Regions from separate parts of the Homo sapiens genome. Here all the other regions are linked to region 6. Evidence: fine-mapped expression QTL. A gene starts in region 6. Each other region holds a variant in brackets. All regions are shown on one strand. Distances are from middle to middle. Region 1 overlaps SUCLG2 (succinate-CoA ligase GDP-forming subunit beta). Region 2 overlaps SUCLG2 (succinate-CoA ligase GDP-forming subunit beta). Region 3 overlaps SUCLG2 (succinate-CoA ligase GDP-forming subunit beta). Region 4 overlaps SUCLG2 (succinate-CoA ligase GDP-forming subunit beta). Region 5 has its middle 130 kb from the start of MIR4272. Region 6 holds the start of SUCLG2 (succinate-CoA ligase GDP-forming subunit beta).

Region 1 (4,002 bases), 34 kb before region 6:
GGTGGGTAGATCACAAGGTCAAGAGATTGAGACCATCCTGGCCAACATGGTGAAAGCCCGTCTCTACTAAGAATACAAAAATTAGCTGGGTGTGGTGGTGCGTGCCTGTAGTCCCAGCTACAGGGAGGCGGGGACAGGAAAATTGCTTGAACCCCAGAGGCGGAGGTTGCAGTGAGCCGAGATCTCGCCATTGCACTCCAGCCTGGCAACAGAACAAAACTCTGTCTCAAAAAGAAAAAATGTGCTACTTACTATAAGTAAATTTACTTTTCATCTCATTTGAACTAGGTTATCCCCATCTCACAGAAGAAGTCTGAAGGTGAGACAGGTTGGTTAAGTAGCTTGTCTAAGGCCACTCAGCTGATTAAGAGAGAGTCACGATTTGAATCCAGGTCCCCCTGCCTAAAAAAAACCCATGAGCTTTCTATTATCACATCTGACTTTTTCTCTTTTTAGTCAGTCTGTAAATCCTGTGTCAATTAAAAACTACTTGGAACCACCACAGACAAAAACTATACTGCCATTCCTGACCTAAAATTACTGTTTTCCATTTTAAAGTATGAACAAATAAAGCAGCTGACAAATTGGTAATAATAATAATGACGATATGGTACCTGAAAAGCCAGCGTTGAAGGGATGTAAAACTTAATTAGAGTGGATAGCTAGAGAAGAAAAGTACTTTAAAGTTCCCGCATCAAGAGAAACAACACTTGAGTTATTCTTCACAGGACATCAGACTAGGATCAGACCAGCGTCCGAGACCATTTTTGTTCCATTGACAACGCATCTCTGATAGTGCCACATGTCTTATCTAAGGCCTCTAGCAGTAAAGCAAGCAGCATCAGTTTAAAATAATAATAATAAAATCATCTGTACTTCCAAAAAAGAATTGACAGTTGAGCTTTCAGATTATCCAGAAACTGGATCACAGCAGGTTGCTATTTTAGAATTCATTCTTCTTGGGGTGCCTTGGCAAAGTCTTACGTTGCTGATCCAAATCAAATACTAGTGAACATTTCTGAGTCCCATGAAATTCCAGAAACTGTGTTATTCCACTTGGAAAGCATTACCTCGTGAGATTCTCCAATTAAAGGAAGATACCAGCAGAAGCTCATTTTACAGATAAGCAAAAGAAGGTTCAGAGTAACTAAGTGCCTGCTCAGGGTGACACAGCTGGTTGGAGGCAAAGCCATATTTCAAATACAGGTATGTCTGACTGAGGAGCCTGTGCCCTTTAACTAGGCAGTGCTGGTGTATTATCTCCCAGTGCACAACCATGGGCCCTGAGCCTTGAAGTCAACTGGGGCAAAAGAAGCAGGAGGCTCTGGTTTATAGATTTCACTGCAGGAAGGTACAGAGCTGTACCGAATATGAGGTTCACTGGGAAAATGGGAAGGTGTGAAAGAGAGGTTGCTGGATCGGTTTCCCTAACTCGAAAGAATTAAGATTCGCAAAGATACTGCCTTGTTCTTTTTATCCTAGGTTCAGCAGAAAAGCAGCATATATTTTAAGGAGCAAAGAAATGTAAAACACTTTGTAGTAATGACAAATGCCCAAAGGAGAGTTTGCTGCATAACTCTATAATGCTGCTCTGCCAGCAGCAAGAAAGAAAAGGGAGGGAAAAAAATACAACCTTGATAAACATTAGCATATTAGCACAACAGCAGAAACAAATGTATAAAAGGCTCTAAAAATACCAAACATCCTTTCAGAATGCCTGTCTGTTCCCTCCTGGAGAGTATGCTAGCTCAATCATGTTGTAGAAGAAAATCACCTTAATTTTACCCTGCAAACAGAAGTAGGCAAGATTTATTTATAGATAAAGAAAACAAATTAAGGTAATATAAACATATACTGGCATTTAACTCCTACCAAGGAAACTGGCAGACCTATACTTTGTTCATTCATTTAACAATTTTCCACTGCATCCATAATGTGGTCACTGTGTTTGACATCCAAGATCTAGCAGTAATCAGCACAGACAAGTTCTTTGTGGTCAGCAAGCTTTTGCCCTAGGAGGAGAGGCAGGGAAGAAAGACATGAACACATTAATGAAGAGTGTAATTACAGAGCAGCAAATGCTATGAGGGAAAAGAAAGACACACATGATGAGGCCGGGTGCAGTGGCTCACACCCGTTAACCCCAGCACTTTCGGAAGCCAAGGCAGATGGATCACCTGAGGTCAGGAGTTCAAGACCAGCATGGCCCACATGGTGAAAC[C/T]TTGTCTCTACTAAAAATACAAAAATTAGCTGGGCGTGGTGGCACGCACCTTTAATCCCAGGTACTCAGGAGGCTGAGACAGGAGAACAGCTTGAACGCAGGAGGCAGAGGTTGCAGTGAAACGAGAATGCACCATTGGACTCCAGCCTGGGTGACACAGTGAGACTCCATCTCAAAAAAAAAAAAAAAAAAAGAAAGAAAAAAGAAAAAGAAAAGAAAGACACATGATGAGCTGTGCAGGCCAATTTTAGACTGAGTGGTCACCTTTAAAGAAATGACATCTGTGCAGAAATCTGGAGACAGAAAAGAGGTATACCTGTGAAGGAACTGAGGCAAAGCACAGCAGGCTGAGAGGCCAGCATGTTCCAAGGCTCTGGGGTAGGAAAGGGGTTGGCACGTGCACGAACAAGGGAGTATGGTGACAGAGGAGCATGAAAATGCCAGCAGGGACCAGATAATGCAGGTGCTGGTAAGGCAAATACAGAGTTTAGACTTCATTCACTCAGTTTTAAACAGGGAAGTGAGAAGATCAAATTCACGTTTTAGAAAAGCCACTGTTTTCTGTTTGGAGAATAAAACCAATTGGGAGAGAGCTGCATTAAACCAGATTAAGGTTAGCAAACTTTTTCTATAAAGAGCCAGATAGTAAATATTATAGGCTTTGAGGCCAGGTGGACTCTGTTGCAACTACTCAACTCTGCCTTTGTAGTGCAAACTAGCCATCAATCATAAATAAATTAATAGGCATGGCTGTGTTCCAATAAAGCTTTATTTGGCTAGCAGGCCAGTGTGCTGATCTCTCAACTAGACTATAGAGAAGGGCAGTAGAGGTGGGGACAGAAAGAAATGAGGGGATTCTGGATAAAGTTTGGTGATGAGGTAAAGCTTACTTGTGGATTAGATGTGGGTTTAAGGAAAAAAAAAAGAAATCTAGTATTAGACACACACACACTTTACAATGTTAGTTGATATGCATGTGGTAAATCTGATGTACCTGCTAGTCATAAAAAAGGCACTTCTTTAAAAACAATCTTAACCTCAAATCTTTTGCCCAAACTGGCCTTATAGTTTGAATGTTTCTTCCCTCCAAAAGTCATATGGCACTTAATCTCCAATGTGGCAGTATTGAGAGGTGGGATCTATAACAGGTAATTGGGTTCTGAGAGCTTTGCCCTCATGAATGGACCAATCCATTCAAGGATGAATGGATTAATGGGTTAATGGATTATCATGGGAGTGAAATCGGTGGCTTTCTAAGAAAAAGAAGAGAGATGAGAGCTAGTACTCTCAGCCCCTTCACCATGCATCCCTTGGGGACTATGCAGAAGAGGTCTCATCAGCAAGAAGGCCCTCACCAGATACAGCCCTTTGACCTTGGACTCCTCAGGCTCCATAACTATAAGAAATAAATTCCTTTTCTTTATAAATGACCTAGTTTCAGGCTGTCTCTTATAAGCAACAGAAAATGAACTAAGACATGGCCTATGTATTACATTTAATTATTGACATTTCTGCACATCATTCCACCACATCAGAGCTGCTGGGCCTTTGATCTTATAACTTTCTTCCATTATTTAATATCAATCTCAGCGGGCAACAGGCTACAGTACCTCTATCTGCTACAGTGGCCCATCTGAGATTCTCTCCTAGGAGAGAACACAAGGCCTCCCTTGATTACAGAGATGCTACATAGAAATAACAAAAACCAAAGACATTAAAGCTAAGGATTAATAAGATTGGCCTATCCAATGGAATACTGTAAAATGGTTCCAATGAATGAA
Region 2 (4,002 bases), 270 kb before region 6:
TTCTAAAGATATGCTAGTCTGCTTACCTACTTGAAAAATGAGGACAGTATAGCTGATGGTATAGATTGTGATGAGAAGCAAATGAAATGAGTGTAAAAGCATTTTTGTAAATGGTGCAGTATCTGTGGCAGGCCTGGCTGGCTTTGCACCACAGACTCCTGCTCCTCTTCTGCAGTAGAGTGCTATTGCTGGAAAGCAGCTGCCCAGCCAGAAACTACATTTCCCAGGCCCCCCTGCATCTCGAAGGGGACATGTGACTGAGTTCAGGCCAAAGGAATGTCACATGGCCATGACAATCTCCAAAGGGACTCTTCACACTCGGTTTTCCTTGTCTGCTTTCTGGAGTGTTCCTAGCTGGGGCAGCCCTGGAAGTCACCTTTTTGGTTCTGGTTGTGTTTTGTCTTGCTTTTTGTTTTTGAGATAGGCTCTCGCTGTGTCACCCAAGATGGAGTGCAGTGGTGTGATCTCAGCTCACTGCAGCCTCAGCCTCCGGTGCCCAAGTGATCCTTCTACCTCAGCCTCCCAAGTAGCTGAGACTAAAGGCACACATCACCACGCCCAGCTATTTTTTGTATTTTTTGTAGAGATGGGGTTTTTCCACATTGCCCAGGCTGGTCCTGAACTCCTAAACTCAAGGACTCCATCTGCCGTGGCCTCCCAAAATGCTGGGATTACAGGCATGAGCCCTTGCACCCAGCCAAATCACTTCTTGAAGATGGCAATGACTCCTTCAGCCTGGATACTTTAATAACTCTCTGGAGCCAAGCATCTTACCCACTCACCCTCTTAGACCTTATGGGAATGAGAAAGACCCTTCTATAATGTTAAGACTCTGAAATTTCTGCATTTTTCTGTTGTTACAGGAGCTAGCATTATTTTGACTAACATATGACTTTGTAAATGCTGTGGAAGGCAGCTTCTAAAATGGTTTTCAAAGATCAATCACTCTTGCCTCCTGGTAGTCACATCTTTGTAGAATCCGTCCCCCTTGAGTATGATCTGGACCCACAGCCTTACTTCTAATAGATAAGAACATGGCAAAAGTGATGGAGTGTCACTTCTGAGACTAGGTTACAAAAGCCTGTGGCTTCAGTCTTGCTCCCTTTAACTCTTTTTTCACTCTGATGAAGCAAACTACCCTGCTATGAGCTGCCCTCTGGAGAGACTCACCTGGGCAAGGAACTGAGGGCAAACTCTGGCCAACGGCTGATGAGGAACTGAGGCTCTGGGTCTAATAGCCAAGGAGGAAGTGCATCTGGCCAAGAACCATATAAGGGATCTTGGAAGCAAATTCTTCCCTAGTCAAGCCTTGAGATCACTACAGCTCGGCTGACACTGTGATTGCAGCCTTGTGAGAGACCCTGAGTGAGAGGATCCACCTAAGCCACACCCAGATTCCTGACCACAGAAACTGTGAGATAATAACTGTTCTTTTTGTTAAGCTGCTACATTTTGGGGTAATTTGTTAAGTGCTGATAGGTAAGTAACACAGATGTAAAAATGTATTATTTCATTAACACAACCTGCGTGCACTTTGATTCATTTGACTGTGGCAGGTGTTAGATAGCAGGCTAAGGAATTTAGAAACTAATCAAAGC[A/G]TGGCTTTCATGGAGTAATGACAGAGTGTGAAACAAAAGCCCTGATGGACACAGGAGCAAACCAGTCTTTGGACCAGAAGGTAAATGACAGTTACACGTGTAAATTTTGTTTTAGACAGAGTCTTGCTCTGTCACCCAGGCTGGAGTGCAGTGGCGTGATCTCAGCTCACTGCAACCTTCACCTCCCTGGTTCAAGCAATTCTCCTGCCTCAGCCTCCTGAGTAGCTGGGATGAGAGGCAGTGGCCACCTCTCCCAACCAATTTTTGTATTTTTAGTAGAGATAGGGTCTCACCATGTTGGCCAGGCTGATCTTAACCTCCTGACCTCAAGTGATCCACTTGCCTCGGCCTCCCAAAGTCTGGGATTAGAAGCATGAGCCACCGTACCCCATGTGTAAATTTCTATCTCCTCCTGCAGAGACGTAGACTAGGCCCTTCTTCCTCTTCCTTTCTTCTTTTGAGCACCTTCCAATCTCAATGCAGCTCTAAGACCTCCAGATAGGTGCAGGAGTGGCGCTCCTGATGTCTTCCTCCATTTCAGATCCTGCTCTTTCTGGAGACTAGTTTTTTATCACGGTTCCCACTTATTCAGATAACTTCTTATTCAGTTTTACCTGAGTTCCTTTGCATGTGTATGGATGAAATGAGCTCTTGATCTTCTTAATTTTTTGAGATAACTTTAATGAGTTGTGCTTCCTTGCAACCAAGTAATCTAAATAATTTAGTTCCTTAATTAATATCCTCTTTTGCACCCAACTTAGCACCAGTATTCCCAAGGGAAAAGAAATGATTTAGAAATTCATGAGCACAAAGATGTGCTGGGCCACTGCCCTTGCTGGGCTTTCCACCCAGAGCTCTGTTGGGCTGACACCTCTCTCCACTGGGCTGACACCCATTCATTCACAAGGCATCTGTTAAATGGTATTTCTTTGGGGATATCTTTCTAATCACCACCTCCCCATGCCCCAACTAAAGCAGGGGCTGGTACAATGAACTTCTGGAGCACCTTGTATTTCTAAAATCTTACCATGGATGAAGTCTTATTGGGATGACTTACTGATGCTTCCCTCGTCCCCTCTAAACATCCACTTTCCTTTGTCAGACTTGCTTACTGGATACCTCCCAATATCCGTTAGCTAGCAGTACGTGCTGACCGACGGGGTAACTCCAGATGGATTCCCACATACAAAGTGTGCTTGACGAGAAGAGGAGTGGGCGGGTACTTTTTGATAGATCTCCTTGCTGTCCTAACAACCCTTTCCTATAGGGTTGAAATAGATACCGCAAACTGCTCAAGGTGCAATCAGGAGGGATTTTTTTTTTTTTTTTGGAGTCCTCTCACAGTTACCTAGGGGTTTTGGGAGTGGCTCCTTTTGCTGGGAAGGGCCCAGGAAGAGCTGGCTGTGCTCACTGCCCTGAGTGAGGACTCCAAGCTGTTACCACTTCTCCCAACCTGTAGCAGCTTCAAGTGCCCCAGTCAAGTGAGGCCTTGCTCCAGGCTAACACTGGTGGACAGGGCCAGGGAAGAAAGGGGACGGAGCAGTTTCCCAGAAAACCACAACCCTTCTCTCCTCCCAGCTGCTCCTTCAGTGCCATGTGAAAATGCCTAATTGCTTCATAATTCTAGGATCCACAAAAGTGAATTTTAATTATACTTGCAGTTACACTTTAATTACCACCTTAATTATTAAGCATATACTAGGCATGCTCAGAACTAAGCAGTTTTTGAAGGGATTCTCATATTCAAATATGAAGCTCATCTGTTATGAGAAATGGGTCATATGCAGAGCCATCATGACCAGGTAGAAACTTGTTACAGAAGGGGAAAGGGGGGTAGAGAGAGAGAGAGGGAGATAGAGAGAGAGACAAATGAAGAGAGAGACAAGAGACAGAGTCATGGGGAATAGCTCAAAAAGGAACAGACATAAGAAAAAAGACAGGTAGAGAATAAGAGAAAGTAAAGGAAAAAAATGAGTTTGCCAAGTGCCTTCCACACCAGCCCCTACCCTGATGCTGGCACCATCTCTTTGCAGCATTCAACCTGGTTTCTCCTTGAAGGCATAGCTCTACTGCCCACTGACCCTGCCCTTGTCGTTAACTACCACTTGCTTCCTCCTTCCTGTTGAGGGAACAACTGGAAGGGGAGGTGGGGACACGCAGAGAAGAGGGATTAAAAGGAAACCAGCTGGGCATGGTGGCCTGTAGTCCCAGCTACTCAGGAGGCTGAGGTCAGAGGACCGCTTGAGCACAGAAGGTCAAGGCTGCAGTGAGCTGTGATTGCACCACTGCACTCCAGCCTGGGCAACAGAGTGAGACCCACTTCTATTTTCAAAATAAATAAATAAATAAATAAAATAAAATAAAATAAAATAAAAGTAAAACAGCAGAGAGTGGAAACAGGTTA
Region 3 (4,002 bases), 110 kb before region 6:
TTTCTGTATCAGCCTTTACCATTTTACCACATGGGGTCGGGGTGTTTATATTTGAGGAAGCCTCTAGAAGATATCTTAAGGACACATGGCTGAATACCTTATAACATGACCTCCTAAAGAGTCACGCAAGAAAACTGGGAGTGGCAGGAAAATGTTTTGCCCTTTTAAAATATTAGTGAGCACTTACTTATTCTATGGGAATTCAAAAAATTTTTTTAAATGTCATGGTCATTGCCTTTTGTAAACTTAAAATTGACTGGAAGAAATAGACACAAACAAATTACTGAAAATTTTTAATTTATAATAAGCATTAAGAAGCAAATTAGGAAGGGGAAATGGTGTCAAGTAAAGCTGAGAAGGAAAAAGGACGGAAGAACTATTGATATGGTTTGGCTCTGTGTCCCCACCCAAATGTCATCTCAAATTGTAATCCCCTGTTGTGAAGGGAGGGACCTAGTGGGAGGTGATTGGATCATGGGGATGATTTCCTCCATGCTGTTCTCATGATAGTGGGTAAGTTCTTACAAGATATGATGGTTTAAAAGTGGCACTCCCCACTTCACTCTCTTTCTCTCCTCCCAGCTTGTGAAGAAAGTGCTTGCTTCCCCTTCGCCTTCCACCATGATTGTAAGTTTCCTGAGGCCTCCCCAGCCACGCGGAACTGTGAGTCAATTAAACCTCTTTCCTTTATAAATTACTAGTCTCAGGGAAGCAGTGTGAGAATGGACCAATACAGCTATAAAGAGAAGAGTACTTGGCCAACGTCATGAGGAAGAGCTGTGAGACTTCTAGGAAGATGGGACTGGAGAGCAAGGACATGGAGTGAAAAACAACTAAAAAAAGGCTACTTTGCTTTTCTATTTATTTCTGTTTGGCTTTCATGGTTTGCTGTTTAAACTAGAAATCACTATAGCACCACTTCAAATAAAGCAGCAAATCATGCCAGGATCCTGCACTATAAATCATTCAAATTTGCTATTTCAGATATTCAGAAAACTTCTACAGATTAAAGTTTATTTCCCTATGTTCAAGAACAGCATATAAATAGAAAATACATTGATCATCTTTGTTAAATTTAGATATTTTACCCCAAATACTTTTAAGAGCTCTAATAATTTTATCATGCCAGTCTCAAAACAGCTCCCAACCAGGTAAGCTAACTCTCAGATAAAACAGCCCCCAGCCAGGTAAGCTAACTCTCCTATAAAAGTTCCTCAAGGGGTCAGTGAGATTCATACTAAGCATTATTTAGTAGCAACAATAATAAAGTATACGCTCCCCTCCTCCCATCCTGCAAAGAAACACATATTCCATACTTTAAATCTGCTATAATTCCAAATGCTAGAGATACAGAATTCCAGACAACAGCTTGATGTTGTTGCCATAAAAAGGAATCCAGGAGGCATTTGTCTTCAATTTTAAAGTTTGTAAAGTGGTCAATGACATGCTGGAGTTAAGCAGAAGCCAGGAATGACCTACCCCAAGAGAGATGAAAGATCTCAGAACCACTTTCCCATGATACACACATCTACTGAGGTCCAGCATAACTGTTATGCTGCTTTCAAATTGCACTGAGTTTTAAATTGCAATGTCTTGCTCTTTTATTGCCTGTCTTGATGCATTCATTGTTTTTGAAATCTAAGTCTATTGCTCGAATGTTAAACACAGAGGGGACTTTAGATTACATCCTGGAGGATGAAACTGAGCAGTATCAATGAACTTGGAAGAGTTTATATTTGGCTTTCAAGGGTTGTGAAGGCCTGAGAAATAGCTATTTCCTTTTCTCTTTATGCCACTTTCTTTG[G/A]TTTCCTCCTTCTCTCCTTCCCTGCCTCATGCTTTCTTCCTTTCTCCCTCCTCCCTCCTTTCCTCTCTCCTTTTCATTCTTCCTTTTCCCACCTGCTTCCCTGCAATACTTCCAAGTTATTTAATTTGCATGTTTGACTATATCTCAGATAACTAATTTCAGTTCCAGCAGCCAGAGAGATCCACATTTACTTCAAATTCTACCCTCCATTACACTCTCCCACAGAACCACTCCCAAATAAGAATGTATCCACTTAAATCCCTGTGAATTGGAACACTCATTATCAATGTGCTACACCTAACCACAGAAGCCATAAAACCTGAACCTACTTTCTTGGACTGTTTTCAAAACGACATTTCTGATTATATGTGAGCATTCAAATCTCTTCTGGCACTTTCTGCATCTTATTTTTCAATGCCTGGCTTGAGCTAGAATTCATACTGGGGGAAGTCAGGCCAAGTGTTATAAATGGGAAATGAGGGAATTAACAAGCTGGTATAAATTTTACTTCTTGGAGTAAAAGAATACAAAATTTTTTGACTTGAGTTTGGAATTATACCACCCAAGACAGCACAGGAAAATACTTAAGAGCTAGCATCCATATCTGGTAAAACTGAAATAAAATTTGGCAGCTTTTAAGTAGTTCTCCAATGGTATTAGTGTGGCACAGAAATCAAGTCCTGTTTCATATGAACCAAGCAGTCCTACAGGAGGATACCCTTTGAAATTCCAATCATTACAAGAAATTTGCACTAATGATTCATATTTCAGGCCGGGCAGGGTGGCTCACACCTGTAATCCCAGCACTTTGGGAGGCCAAGGCAGGTGGATCACTTGAGGCCAGGAGTTCGAGACCAGCCTGGCCAACATGGTGAAACCCCGTCTCTACTAAAAATACAAAAATTAGCCGGGCGTGGTAGCACACGCCTATAATCCCAGCTACTCGGGAGACTGAGGCAGAAGAATAGCTGGAACCGGGGAGGTGGAGGTTGCAGCGAGCCGAGATTGTGCCACTGCACTCCAGCCTGGGCCACAGAGTAAGACTCTGTCTCAAAACAAACAAACAAAATTAGCTGAGCATGGTGGCAGGTGCCTGTAATCCCAGCTACTTGGGAGGCTGAGGCAGGAGAATTGCTGGAACCGGGGAGGCAGAGGTTGCAGCGAGCTGAGATTGTACCACTGCACTCCAGCCTGGGTTACAGAGTGAGACTCCATCCCAAAAAATAAACAAACAAAAAAGATTCATATTGCATCATCACAGCTGGAAAGCTAGCATATAAGTCTATTCCTCCTATCCACACACAGCTTGCTAATATGGCTAATGTTTTTTCTATACCCCCACATTCTCTGCTATGGTCTGAATGTTTGGGTCTCTTGTACCCCAAAATTCATAAGTTGATATCCTAACCCCCAGGTGATAGTACTGGGAGGTGGGGGCAGAGACCTCCTGCATGGGATTAGTGCCCTTCTAAATGGGACCCCAGAGAGTTCCCTCATCCCTTCTACCACGTGAGGACACAGCTAGAAGGCAATATGTGTTAAGGAGAAAGCAGGCTCGCCTCAGACACTGCATCAGCCTTGGTCTTAGACTTCCCAGCCCCTAAAGCTATGAGAAACAAATTTCTGTTGTTTATAGGCCACCCAGTCTCTGGTATTTCCTTACGGCAGCCAGAATGAACTAAGATACTCCCTGAACACATAGTGTTTTACTCTATTTTCTACTTTAGTTTTCAGCAACATGGACATCCAGAAGTAAACAATACATCTATAGAATTACCTGAAATACTCTCCTTCGTCCTCAAGCACTGGTGCCCTTAAATCCAGCTGCAGCCTCTTCCAGGTTCCTGACCCTTTCTCATTGCCTCCCAGCAGGAGGTGGAACAGTCTGTCATAATGCATAAACATGATTTGACTGTGGGGAGGGGGCAGATCTTGCTACCCTAGAAGAATTTCCCAGGATACCTGTCCAAAAAGCTAAAAACAGAATAACTCCAGAAAAGAAGATGTCCTAGCCTTATGCAAAGGGAACAATTTTCACGAATCAACTAAATTAACACTGACTTGGGAATGCTACCAAGTCTAACAAAGCAGATGCCACCTCTCCTCTGAAGGCCCTTGGAGTTCAAAGGAGATGCTACAGCAAGGGGGATCCATGAAGCCAGGGAGAGATTCTGTCAAACCTAATGAAGCCACTCTCC
Region 4 (4,002 bases), 200 kb before region 6:
ATAAAAAGCATAAGTTATCATAATATTTTTAAAGGTTGTAAGTTTCAAGTATTTTCCATGTGTGGCCATGAATTATGCCTATTGAAATATTTTCTAAAAATTTGGGCCTGCTTTTACAAAGACGAGACTGGTTTGTAATTAGTGCATTGATTTTATGTGAATGAGTGCTTTTGAGGTGCTTAATGAGCCAGTAATGATTAATACTTTTAACAGACTAAGAATACTTTTACTTCTATTAGTTTCTTTATTAAACCCTTTCTAATATGTAGAAAACAGGTAAGTTTCAGTTAGTAGCTCAAGTTACCACAAATTCCTTGTCAAATTTACTAAACAATCCACATCCAGTTTAGCTCTTCCTCCCTTCCCACTCTTCCTCCTTTCCGCCCTTCCCTCTCAAATATTTATTGAGCATCTAGCAAGTAGATTACTAAATCCAACCCAAGACACTCCCCTGCATCAGAGATAACATCTAATAAATTCCTCTAATTGTCATTCTGTGACTGAAATTGTATTCAGGACCGCATTTCTAAATTATAGTTCAATTAGTAGCTTTGTTTACAAGTCATGAATACCATTTTAATTTTGCAGATCTTGGTAACACATATAAGAATCTTCTAGCCATTGCACTGCCTTTTGAAACTGCATAATCTCGCACGTTTTAAAGGAGCCTCTGGTATTATTTTCTTTTCAATGTAATCATAGATGAAGGTCTAAAGTAGACCTTCCCATTCTCTTTCTGAACTCCTTTAAGTTCTTTAATTATAACCCTGAAATGCATCTCTTTTGCGTGCCCAACATCTTCAGCATATTTCTCTTCTTTACCCTGCAGCTGATTAGCAAGGACTACAACACTGAATATCAAATATTATGATTTTTGAGTTATATGAGCATTTTCCTTTTCACAGGAATAATATGAAGAAAATTACCTCAGTACATTCAGACTTCTTTTTTTTTTATGAGTATTTTCTTTTAATTCTTATTGATAGTCTAAAACAAAACACCATTAACTGGATAGTTTATAAACAACAGAAATTTATTTCTCACAGTTCTGGAGTCTGAAAGATCACAATCCAGGCACCAACAGATTTGATGTCTGGTGAGGGCCTGTTTCCTGGATTACAGGTGGTGCCACCTTCTTGCTGTGTCCTCACATGGCAGAAGGAATGAAGGAGCTCCCTTGGGCCTATTTCATAAGGACACTAATCACATTCATGAGAGCCCACCCTCATGAGCTAATCAACTGCTAAAGGCCCCACTTCCTAATATCATCACCTTGAGGGTTAGGATTTCAACTTACGAATGGTGGGGAGAGGGGCACAAACATTCAGAACACAACAAAATTATTTAGCATGAATATATATATGTATTGCCTTACTGGTTACCAGGCTACAAATCAGGAAGTAAGAAAACAATCTTCCAATGCAGTTATTTTCAAGTAGTGGGAAACTCTTGATATTCCTTAATAGAGGGGCCACATCAAGCCTTTGGCTCCCAAGAAGGCAATGCCTCTTGAAAACTACTGTGTTCACTGGTCACATGTGTATCAGTTACAAATGTGACCATCCAGTTGAAACATAATTCTAGCTGTGTATGCCAGAAATATATCTAGATATAACCAGAATGCCACGATGTACTTGGGCAAACCCCCAAGGTTGTCGTTGTCGTGCATTTTGTGTGTGTGTATGTGTGTGCAAATGGCTTAAATATTCCATTACTGCCTATTGTTCTTACATAAAACTTTTCAAGAAAATTAGAAGTTAATAGGCTGACTGATGACAGCCTTATATCAATATAAATTGCTTAAAATATTCTTAGGCCTAAGTGGATGTAAATTTTTATGTTCATTCCCAATGTTGGATAAGAAGTTGACAGAGCTGCACAAAAATTGCAAAAGAAACATTCTAAATCATGAGCTCTTTAAGTACAGGGACGAGGGACGACATCTTACCCATTTATATATCTCCAGGATTTGGAACAGTAGCTGGTATATAGAGTAATTGTTGAATAAATAATATGAAAAATTGGTTTGAGATCCAGGAACAGAGTAAAGGATAGGGTTGTGGTCGCACTGGTGGTTACAAGGCAATACTTTTTTACCTTTCAAACTAAGAAAAACATCAAATATATAAAAAAAAAATAGAAGGTGAAATAATTATACAGCCTACCCATGTATCCTCTACCTACCTTTAGTAGTATTTAACGATTTGCCATATTT[G/A]CTTTCTCCCTCTCTTCCTCTCTATATCTATCTCTATAGAGATATATGTAGCTATACATATATAGATAGATGGATAGTTGTTGAAGCATTTCATACTGAGTGGCCTACATCATGACACTTCACTCCCAAATGCATCTCCTAAAAATAGGAACATTGTCCTAATCACACTACAACATGTAAGAAAATGGGCCGGGCGTGGTGGCTCATGCCTGTAATCCCAACACTTTGGGAGGCCAAGGCGGGTGGATCACAAGGTCAGGAGATCGAGACCATCCTGGCTAACAAAGTGAAACCCCATCTCTACTAAAAATACAAAAAATTAGCCGGGCATGGTAGTGGGCACCTATAGTCGCAGCTACTTGAGAGACTGAGGCAGGAGAATGGCGTGAACCTGGGAGGTGGAGCTTGTAGTGAGCAGAGATGGCGCCACTGCACTCCAGCCTGGGCGACAGAGTGAGACTCCGTCTCAAAAAAAAAAAAAAAAAAAAGAAAATGAACAATTCCCCTATTGTCATCTAATATGCAGCCTGCAGTGAAATATTCCCAGTTATCCCAAGAATGTTTTATAGACACACATACCCAAAGCAGTATCCATTCAAAGTTCACACATTGCATGTAGTTCTTAGGGTCTATTTCACATATTCAGTGTTTTAGATTTACTTATTTCAAGTTTTCTATTTCTATATATATTTTAGTCCATTTGTCCCTGAATTGTAGCAAGTATTTTCAAATCCATAACTTGAAACTGAGCTTTGTGGATTAAGGCAAAAAGGACATTGTAGATGCCTCTGGCCCATCCTCCTCACACTTTGAGTAAGTGAGGGTCTTCTGGTCCATCCTCCTGCACATCAGGCGTTATTTCACTCTTGACATACACTTGTGATGTGGGGCATAAATCACCATAAGCATCTTTCATGTTTGCCTAACCAACTCAGTTTAAATCCCATGACTAAAAAGGGAGCCTACTTTCCAGAATCAGACTGGAGGAAAAGAGGAGATTTTAAATTTCTTCCTGCTCCTAAAAATGGAATGCTTGAAAGTGATATATACTGGCAATGTAAAATAGTTTTGATGGGGAGAGAATGCAGAAATTAACTTTCTAACTTAAACAATTTCAATTTTGTAATTCTCAATGTTAGCACAAACACTATAATCAAAATTCACTGTACTGTGCTCTAGGTACTGGGTGGAGGAAAAAAAAAACACTGATGGGACAAAGATCTTCTTAGGGAATATGGCAGAGAAAGTGAAAAAGCATGAGGAATAAAGATTTTCAAATATGGGTATCTGAAAGGGTAGGCCTTTCCATTTTGTTCTACTACCCAGTGTTTCAATCCCGGCAAGAACACCACAATATTCCAGGTCTTTACCTCCATCACCCTGCCCTAAGGATATGTGGGGTAAGGGGCACTGTTGTGCCCAAGGCTCTTCAAATTTAACGTATTATTACCACTGTTATTATATTTAATTCTACCACTGGAAGTAGTAAGACCTCAATCAGGGGTGATTCACTCCCATGATATTGATCAGTATAAGGCAGAGACTATTGGGATACCAAGTGTTAATTCTTCTTTCATTAGTGGCAGTATCTCAACAGAATGTCAATTTTATAATATTTTTCAGCATCCCTTTCAACCTGGAATCATGTGATTGCTGTCTGGGTAGTGAGGTGGGACTTCCGGGATTCAGCCTGGCCTTCCTCCTCCCTTGATACATGAATATCTTAAATTATACTGCATAGGACTCTCTTCCTTTATTACCAATCAAATAAAAAATTAATTGGGTCA
Region 5 (4,002 bases), 300 kb before region 6:
ATGTACGTATGTATCTATGTATTTGAGACAGGTTCTTACTCTGTCCTCCAGGCTGGAGTGCAGTGGTGCAATCTCGGCTCACTGCAGCCTTGACCTCCTGACTCAAGTGATCCTCCCACCTCAGCCTCCCGAGTAGCTGGGACCACAGGTGCTCACCATCATACCCAGCTATTTTTTTGTATTTTTAGTAAAGATGGGGTTTTGCCACGTTGCCCAGGCTGGGACACTCTTCTCATCATAGCCTCCAAGATGTTGTTCTTTTTTTTTTTTTTTGAGATGGAGTCTTGCTATGTCACCCAGGCTGAAGTGCAGTGGTGCGATCTCGGCTCACTGCAGCCTCTGCCTCCTCTGCCTCCCGGGTTCCAGGGATTCTCCTGCCTCAGCCACCTGGGTAGCTGAGATTACAGGCATATGCCACCACGCCTGGCTAATTTTTGTATTTTTAGTAGAGATGGGGTTTCGCCATGTTGGCCAGGCTGGTCTCGAACTCTTGATCTCAGGTGATCCACCCGCCTTGGCCTCCCATAGTGCTGGGATTACAGGCATGAGCCACTGCGCCTGACCCAAGATGTTCTTCTATCAGTTTTTCACTCTCTTCTTATTGGTGTCTTCAATATCTCCTTCCTGATAAGATTCAGAAATCTGGATCTTATGCTCTGGAATCATAAACATTTATGTTCTAATTCTGGGTTTTCGATCTCTGTGTGATCTTAGGAAAGCTGGTTAACATCATTGAGCCTCAGTTTCTTCATGGTAAAGTGGTAATTGTAATGCCTAGCTCAAAGAATAGCAAGGAGGATTAAATGAGATAATGTATATAAAATGTCTAGGAGACTTCTGGGCAAGACATTGGCACCTTAGATTCAAACACTGGTGCACATCCTCTCCTCTAAGCAAATAATAAGGGTAGGCAGAACCTTAAAAGAGAAAAGTAATAACATATGTGGAGGCTAAAAAATAAGATAAATCTATCTGGAACCAAAAACTGAACAGAAATACAAAGTCATAAAAGGAGCTGAAAATGGAGGCCTGTTGGACTCTGTTTCCGAAATAGGCAGTGGCTACCAAGAGCTAGGCTTCTATGTGTCAACAAGGACCAAAGGAAAGGCACACAAGCGAGGCAACTGGAATCAGGAGTGACAGGGATCCAGTGTCTGGGGAGAAACTTTTCCATCCCATTGGCAGCACCATTTTCCTTTTTCAACTACAGGCTGCAGTTGTTTTCCACACACTCCCATCTTAAGGCGCCTGTAAGTGCCGTGTTCATAATTCAGTTTCTATTTCCCTTCCCATACCGCTACACTTTTATTGAATGTACATTTTGCATTCCTGTGAAAAACTCACAGTGATTTATACTGATATCCCAGTGGAGCAGGAACCTCAAGGTGACATTATAAGGACTCAGGGTCCAGCTGCTGAATGTAGACAACTGAAAGAGGGAGCAAGAGGAGGGAAAAGAGGGAAGGAGAGAAAAGAAAATAAGAACAATAAACAAAAGTAAATTAAATACTGATTCATCTGCAGCAGAATTTATTCCTGAAAAAATCTATTTTATAAAGGAAACTGACAATGGCTTTAAAATAAATGTTTCAGGTATTTAAAGACAAAAATGAGTAAAACCATGAACATAATAGATTACAACACATAGACTTGGGAGAAAAGAAATAATGATGAGTAAAGAAACTGATGAAATATGTCAGCAAATTTAATGAAGTATTGACTATTTTGGGTGTGTGTTAAACAACACTGTGTTTAGAGAAAAAAAACAAGATGGGGAAAGGGAGCAATTTGGTTAATTAAATTGTGATAAGTAGGAGGATAGAAATGATTAAAAATAGATTTGTTTAAAATATTTATAGTTAAATAGGTAGGTGAAAAAAATTCAGGGTTGCCACTAAAAGTAAACAATACAATATATGCTTTCTGTATTTGTTTTCTACATCTGTACAACAAATTATCACAAATTTAGCT[A/G]CTTATAAAAATACATACATTATCTCAGAGTTTCTGTGGGTCAGGAGTATGGGCACAGGCTGGCTGGGTCTTCTCTGTTCAGTGTCTCACCAGGCTGCAATCAAAGGGTAGGCCTAGCTGTGTCCTCAAGTGAAGGCTCTCTTAGGGAAAAATCTACTTCCAAGCTTCCTAAGGTTGTTGGCTGAATTCAGGTCCTTGCAGCTGTAGGCCTGGAATCCCAGAATTCCTGCAAGTGTTGGCGAGACGCTGCTCTCAGCTCCCAGGAGGTATTTCCACGTCGTTGTCACCTGACTCCCTCTATAGGCAGTTCACAAAATGACTGTTTCTTTGAGGTCAGCAGGAGAATCTCTCAGACTCCTGTTTCTGATCTCTAAACCTTCATTTGAAGGGCTCCCATAATTAGATCAGGCCCAACCAGGATAACTTCCCTCTTCATTAAGTTAACTGATTAGAGACTTAAATCGCATCTTCAAAATCCCTTCCCCTTGGCTGCACAATGTAACCTAAGCACTGGAGTGCTGTCCCATCATATGCACCAGTCCTGCCCACACTCCAGGGAAGATTATACAAGAAGGTGGGAATTTTAGGGGCCATCTTAGAATCTGCCAACCACAGTCTGTCCTTTGAATCCCCAATGATTTACATTCCTCCCAGATGCAACATGTATTTACCCCTCTCAAAGTTCCCACCAGTCTTATCTCATTACAGCAACAGCTTACAGTCCAGTAATACCATATGTTTGTATGTGTATATCTTTTTCAACTGAAAAGGAGCAATAAGAAACAAAAATGAATGATAAACAGAAGAAACAAAAAATTGTAGAAAGAAATACAAATAAACCAATAATCACAACAAACATAAAGAAATTAAGTTTATTTTTTAAAAGATATAGATTTTTTAAATGAGTAAAGTGCACAGAGTCCAGCTATATGTTTCTTAAAAAACTACAACAAAATGCAGAAAGATTAAAAGAAAGGAACTAAAAAATATATGCCAGTAAAATTGTAATCCCCAAATATCTAGGGTTCTAATATAACATCAGATAAAACAGAACCTAAATCCAAATTATTACAGGGTTAAAGAAGAATACTACTAATGATACAAAAATAACTTCCTAAGATATATAATAATAATTAATTTATGCACATCTAACAGCATTCTCTCTCTCTCTACACACACACACACACACACACAATCATATTGAAACTGGGAACTTTTAACACAACTCTATTAAGTTTATTAACTTAATAATAGTAGAAAAGATTTGAAAACAGAATGAACATGTTTGATGTAATGAACTATAATAAAATTTGTACCTCTATGTTCTTTTCAAGTACAAAGATGCCATTTACAGTAATTAACTGTATCATAATCAAATGTCAACACATCTCAAAGTTTCAATATCATAGCGACTATGTTATCTCACTGTAATGAAATTAAACCAGAAATTAAAAATTAAAAGATAGATAAAAGATCATATATTTAGAACTCTAGAACATTCACTCCTAAATAACATAATCCAAAGGAAAATAACAGTGAGAGAATTACAAAGTATTTAGGATAGAACACCAATGAAAAGACAGCTGAAACTGCAAAATTAGTGAGATGCAGATAAAATATTTACAGGTAAGTTTAAATGGATCTATTCAATATCAAGAAAGACTAAATATAAATGAGTTAAGTATTTAAAGATCTAGACAAAGAATTTAGAAAGAGTAACTCAAAATAATCAGAAGAAAAAATAACAAACATAATCAAGAAATACATAAAATAGAAAACTATAATACACTGGGGCGAATGAACGTGACCACAGCTTGGTTCTCTGAGAAACAGAAAAGGCTGTAGCAAGACTAATTTTTTAAGAATAGGCATAAATAAACAATAACAGCAAGAGAAAAGGAGAAAGATACACCACAGATACTAAAAATGCAATAGTCTGAGAATCAAGGTAATTACATTCTGCTTGTTGATGACTGAGGTAGGAGCAGGCATATGACAATTCTTGTGAAAAGGACAATGAGAAAAAAGGAG
Region 6 (4,002 bases):
CGTACTATCAATCAAAAGTCAAAACAGTAAAGCTAACAGCAAAGGTGAAAAAAAAAAAAAAACTTCAATGACACTAAGCATCAGGAATATGTGTCAAATGTTAAATTTAACCATAGGGAGGAGGTAGACAAAATGTCATTCTATGGGTATCTTTGAGAGACCAGTTAAAGTTATTTCTCTAAGCAGAAACTGGGTCTTTTATTTCTGTACAGACAACAGTTTTTCACAAGGCCTGGTGGTATAAAATAGGTCTGGGCCAAGAGTGGCAACAGATTTCTGAGACACTTGGTGAGGATTCTTAAGTATGATGAGAGAAGTGGGCCATGTTTAACTGCAATGTCTGCCACGGGCAAGGGACTATGGAAACGTAATATCAAATCAGTGTACATGAAACAGATCATAGGAAGCACCCAAGAATTTGAAAATAGCAATACTCACCATTTTTATGGACAATTCTAAGATGGTCATAAAGAAAAAAATAAAAATGTGTCAGTGGTGCTAATGACTTGGATGTTATATAGTTACTACTGGCATGCAGATTAATTTGCATGTTGATATAATATATTTTCATGAGGAAGTATATACTCACCAGGAAACAGCATGGTGTAACGGAAACGTAAAGGTAAGCCTTTACTCTGGAATGCCACAAACTCTCACTGTATCGTTGAATATGTCATTGAACTTCTTTAGGCCTCAATTTCTCTACCCATGAAATGAGCTGGCTGGACTAAATGATTGCTAATGTCCATTTCCAGTTCTTGGACACTGTGTACCTTTCTATCTTTAAAAAAACCTACTTTTACCTTCTAAGAATTTACAGAAAAACACATCATCCACAAATATGTAAATCACAGTAACCAGATGGGGCGTGCTAACAGATCTTTTTACCCAGTTTTCTTGACAAACCAAGAGTATCTCTCCCCAACCAGATTTTCTCCTGTGTTGCGTTCAGCCTCTTATTTCTTGGTTAGGGAAGTAGGCTTCACATATTTCAGCTAAACACTCTGCATTTTCAGTTTCTCTGTACAATTCATGAGTTTTCACTGCCCTGGGCCCCATGTTTCTCATCAATTCAAGTCTACACTCATGGTAAGCACCCTAGTTCTTGTTTTTTCTAACACTTAAATAATGAATAGGACTTCATCTCCTAGAGCTATTCTCCTTACTCTATTACAACAGTTATTAGTGAGTTTTAATTAGACAAAACTGCCATTCCTTTTGCTACCTCACTATACTGTCAAGCACCTATTAAGAATATTACAGTAGTAAGTATTAGCACCTTTTAAATTTACATTAACAATAACAGAGAAATGGGGAGGCAGGAAATGAAAGGAGAGGGGTAAAAATAGCTCACAGATGTCATAACCAAAGTTTAGAGGAACTCAAAAAATCATTAATCACTATTTTTTAAATTTTCTAAAAAACTATACTATGCACATCCTGGTTAAAATTGTATGAGTGATAATTTGCCTCTCATCAATTAAAAATGGGGAAATAGGCAAGGTCATTAACTCTGCTGTGGCTGAATCCCAGACTGTGCTTTCTTTAAAAGGGAAGAGAGATAGTCTACGGAGACTAACCAGTTCAGTGGTTGAGTGATTTCTACAAGAGTCATCACCAACTCAAAACTTTCCTGAAGTCCTTCTGACTATTTTAACGCTTGCCATCTGCAGAAGGTAAAAATCTGCTAGAGGCCAAGTTCCAATCGCTATCCAGCCCACCACTGACCCTCTTTGATTTCATTCTCCATCAACAAGGAGGACATGGACAGGGTCAATGGTCTAATGCGTTTTAGTGACAGCCCTGATTTTTCATTGGAAAGAGGAGAAAGATCGTTTCCCATTTTTCTCCTTGACCCACGGATTTGACCAACTCAGGCACATTAAAAGTCTGCAAAAGCAGGTAGCCTGCAGGAAGTTCACCCTAGGGGGTGAGTTCCTAGTTGGGCTGAAACGGGTTTCCAGGCATGTTTATCACGTGGTCTAAACGTGCTCAGGGTTAGTGCCAGAAGTTTGAAAAGCAGAATTAGTAGAGCTGACAATAAAACCTCAGGGCTCCAAAACCCGGTCCAAGAAACTTTTCTTAAACTTGCGTCCAGCGCCTGCTTCAGCGCCTTCGCCATGAGTCTGCGCGGGCAGACAGCGGAGACTCTAGTGCGTTGGGTCGCTCATACCCCGAGGCACCCGGGGCTGCCGCCGCGCCGCCCCTGCCCCACACTGGAGCGGGGTTCCCTGCTGCGCCTGGACCCGGCGCCGCGTCACCTCCCGAAGTGGGGCGCCCGAGGGGCCGCGCAGGGGGTCAGGCGGAGACCAAGAGTAGCAGGGGGCGAGGGAAGCCCGGGCAGGCCGGCGCCGCTGCTGGCGCCCGCAGCTCCTGCCCCCACGCTCACCTGGGACCCGGCCGCCAGGAAGCGGGGCCGCAGCGCTAGGGCTCGCAGAAGCTTCCCGGCCTGCGCTGCTACGGGGGACGCCATCTTAAACAGGAAACTCGGCACGGGGCAGTAGGGCGGGCGCGGGCAGGGGAAGGAGGCGGAGGAGGAGCAGCGGGAGGAGGGGTCAGAGGAGAAGCGGGCGCGGGGAGGAAAAGGAGGAGGAGGCAGAGGCGGTCTGGGCCGGGCCGGGCCTGACCCCTGCGTCCCGGGGGCACAGGCGTTCTTAAGGCTGCAGAGCCCTGGGTCCCCCACCCGGCCCCGGTTCACTTTGAGCGGTCCCAAGGCCTGAGGGCCTACTGTCCAGTCCCCAGGTTATCGTCCTGAGCAAAGACAGACCCCGAGCCCTGCGGTCTTGGGGCTCAAACAGTCCCTGGATGGCCAAACAAGCAAATATTCGCCATGGCAGTGGGTGCTGGAAGGGTGGCTCACGGAGCTGACGCCCTCCGCAGAGAACCGTGGTCTAGTCCTGCGGTCACGAGGCCTATCTGGGACAGTGGTGTTTGAGCTGAGACTTTAACGAATAGAGACAGGTGAGGTTCCTGCAGCCCAGGGCTTCAGGTGAGTCAAGGAGAGGCCATTGGAGGCTCTCCATCCCTTAAGGAGTTGTGGGTGTTTTGTTTTGTTCTATCCTTAACCTAAAATCAATGTAAAGCTGAGAGATGAAGCCGGGTGGGTCGGTTGGGGACTTGGAGAACTTCTCTGTCTAGCTAAATGATTGTAAATGCACCAATCAGCGCTCTGTGTCTAGCTAAAGGTTTGTAAATACACCAGCCAGCCCTCTGTGTCTAGCTAATCAGGTGGGGACTTGGAGAACTTTTCTGTTAGCTAAAGGATTGTAAATGCACCAATCAGTGCTCTGTGTCTGGCTAAAGGTTTGTAAACACACCAATCGGCACTCTGTAAAAACGCACCAATCAGCGCTCTGTGTCTAGCTAAACGTTTGTAAATGCACCAATCAGCACTCTTTAAAAAGGGACCAATCAGCACTCTGTAAAATGGACCAATTGGCACTCTGTAAAATGGACCAATCAGCAGGATGAGGGTGGGGCCAAATAAGGGAATAAAAGCTGGACACCGGCGCCAGTAGTGGCCCCTAGTTGGGGTCTCCTTCCAGGTTGTGGTTGCTTTGTGCTTTTGCTTTTTGCAGTAGCTCTTGCTGCTGTTCACTGTTTGGGTCCGCACTATCCTTATGAGCTATAACACTCACCACAAAGGTTTGCAGTTTCACTCCTGAGGTCAGGGAGACTGCGAACCCACTGGGAGGAATGAACAACTCCGTATGCCCCACCTTCGAGGGCTGTAACACTCACTGCAAAGGTCTGCAGCTTCATTCGTGAAGTCAGCGAGACCACGAACCCACAGGCAGGAACAAACAACTCCGGACGGGCCACCTTTAAGAGCTGTAACACTCACTGTGAAGTCTGCGGCTTCACTCCTGAAGTCAGCGAGACCACGAACCCACCGGAAGGAAGAAACCCCAGATACATTTGAACATCTGCAGGAACAAATTCTGGTCACGCCATCTTTACCGCGAGGGTCTGCAGTTTCATTCTGGAAGTCAGCGAGACGAT

What was found.
Region 1: its variant is fine-mapped to the expression of SUCLG2 in whole blood (TOPMed, PIP above 0.99).
Region 2: its variant is fine-mapped to the expression of SUCLG2 in unexposed skin (GTEx, PIP above 0.99). The same link has a PIP of 0.9 or more in T cells, sun-exposed skin and whole blood.
Region 3: its variant is fine-mapped to the expression of SUCLG2 in whole blood (TOPMed, PIP above 0.99).
Region 4: its variant is fine-mapped to the expression of SUCLG2 in whole blood (INTERVAL, PIP above 0.99).
Region 5: its variant is fine-mapped to the expression of SUCLG2 in tibial nerve (GTEx, PIP above 0.99).

What each region holds. Positions count from the first base shown.
Region 1 is chr3:67,618,190-67,622,191 of GRCh38, forward strand. The region is part of intron 1 of SUCLG2 (succinate-CoA ligase GDP-forming subunit beta); the gene reads right to left. Among named protein-coding and RNA genes, the nearest start is that of SUCLG2, 34 kb to the right of the region's middle. The variant C/T (reference allele first, on the strand shown) is at 2,222.
Region 2 is chr3:67,377,255-67,381,256 of GRCh38, forward strand. The region is part of intron 10 of SUCLG2 (succinate-CoA ligase GDP-forming subunit beta); the gene reads right to left. Among named protein-coding and RNA genes, the nearest start is that of MIR4272, 150 kb to the left of the region's middle. The variant A/G (reference allele first, on the strand shown) is at 1,599.
Region 3 is chr3:67,543,879-67,547,880 of GRCh38, forward strand. The region is part of intron 2 of SUCLG2 (succinate-CoA ligase GDP-forming subunit beta); the gene reads right to left. Among named protein-coding and RNA genes, the nearest start is that of SUCLG2, 110 kb to the right of the region's middle. The variant G/A (reference allele first, on the strand shown) is at 1,805.
Region 4 is chr3:67,452,279-67,456,280 of GRCh38, forward strand. The region is part of intron 9 of SUCLG2 (succinate-CoA ligase GDP-forming subunit beta); the gene reads right to left. Among named protein-coding and RNA genes, the nearest start is that of SUCLG2, 200 kb to the right of the region's middle. The variant G/A (reference allele first, on the strand shown) is at 2,216.
Region 5 is chr3:67,355,760-67,359,761 of GRCh38, forward strand. No RefSeq gene overlaps it. Among named protein-coding and RNA genes, the nearest start is that of MIR4272, 130 kb to the left of the region's middle. The variant A/G (reference allele first, on the strand shown) is at 1,972.
Region 6 is chr3:67,652,114-67,656,115 of GRCh38, forward strand. SUCLG2 (succinate-CoA ligase GDP-forming subunit beta) reads right to left here and starts at 2,499. Exons shown (of 11, transcript NM_003848.4): 1 at 2,390-2,499. The coding sequence starts at 2,473. SUCLG2-DT (SUCLG2 divergent transcript) reads left to right here and starts at 2,584. Exons shown (of 7, transcript NR_109992.1): 1 at 2,584-2,989. RefSeq lists a silencer at 2,111-2,790 and an enhancer at 2,306-2,805.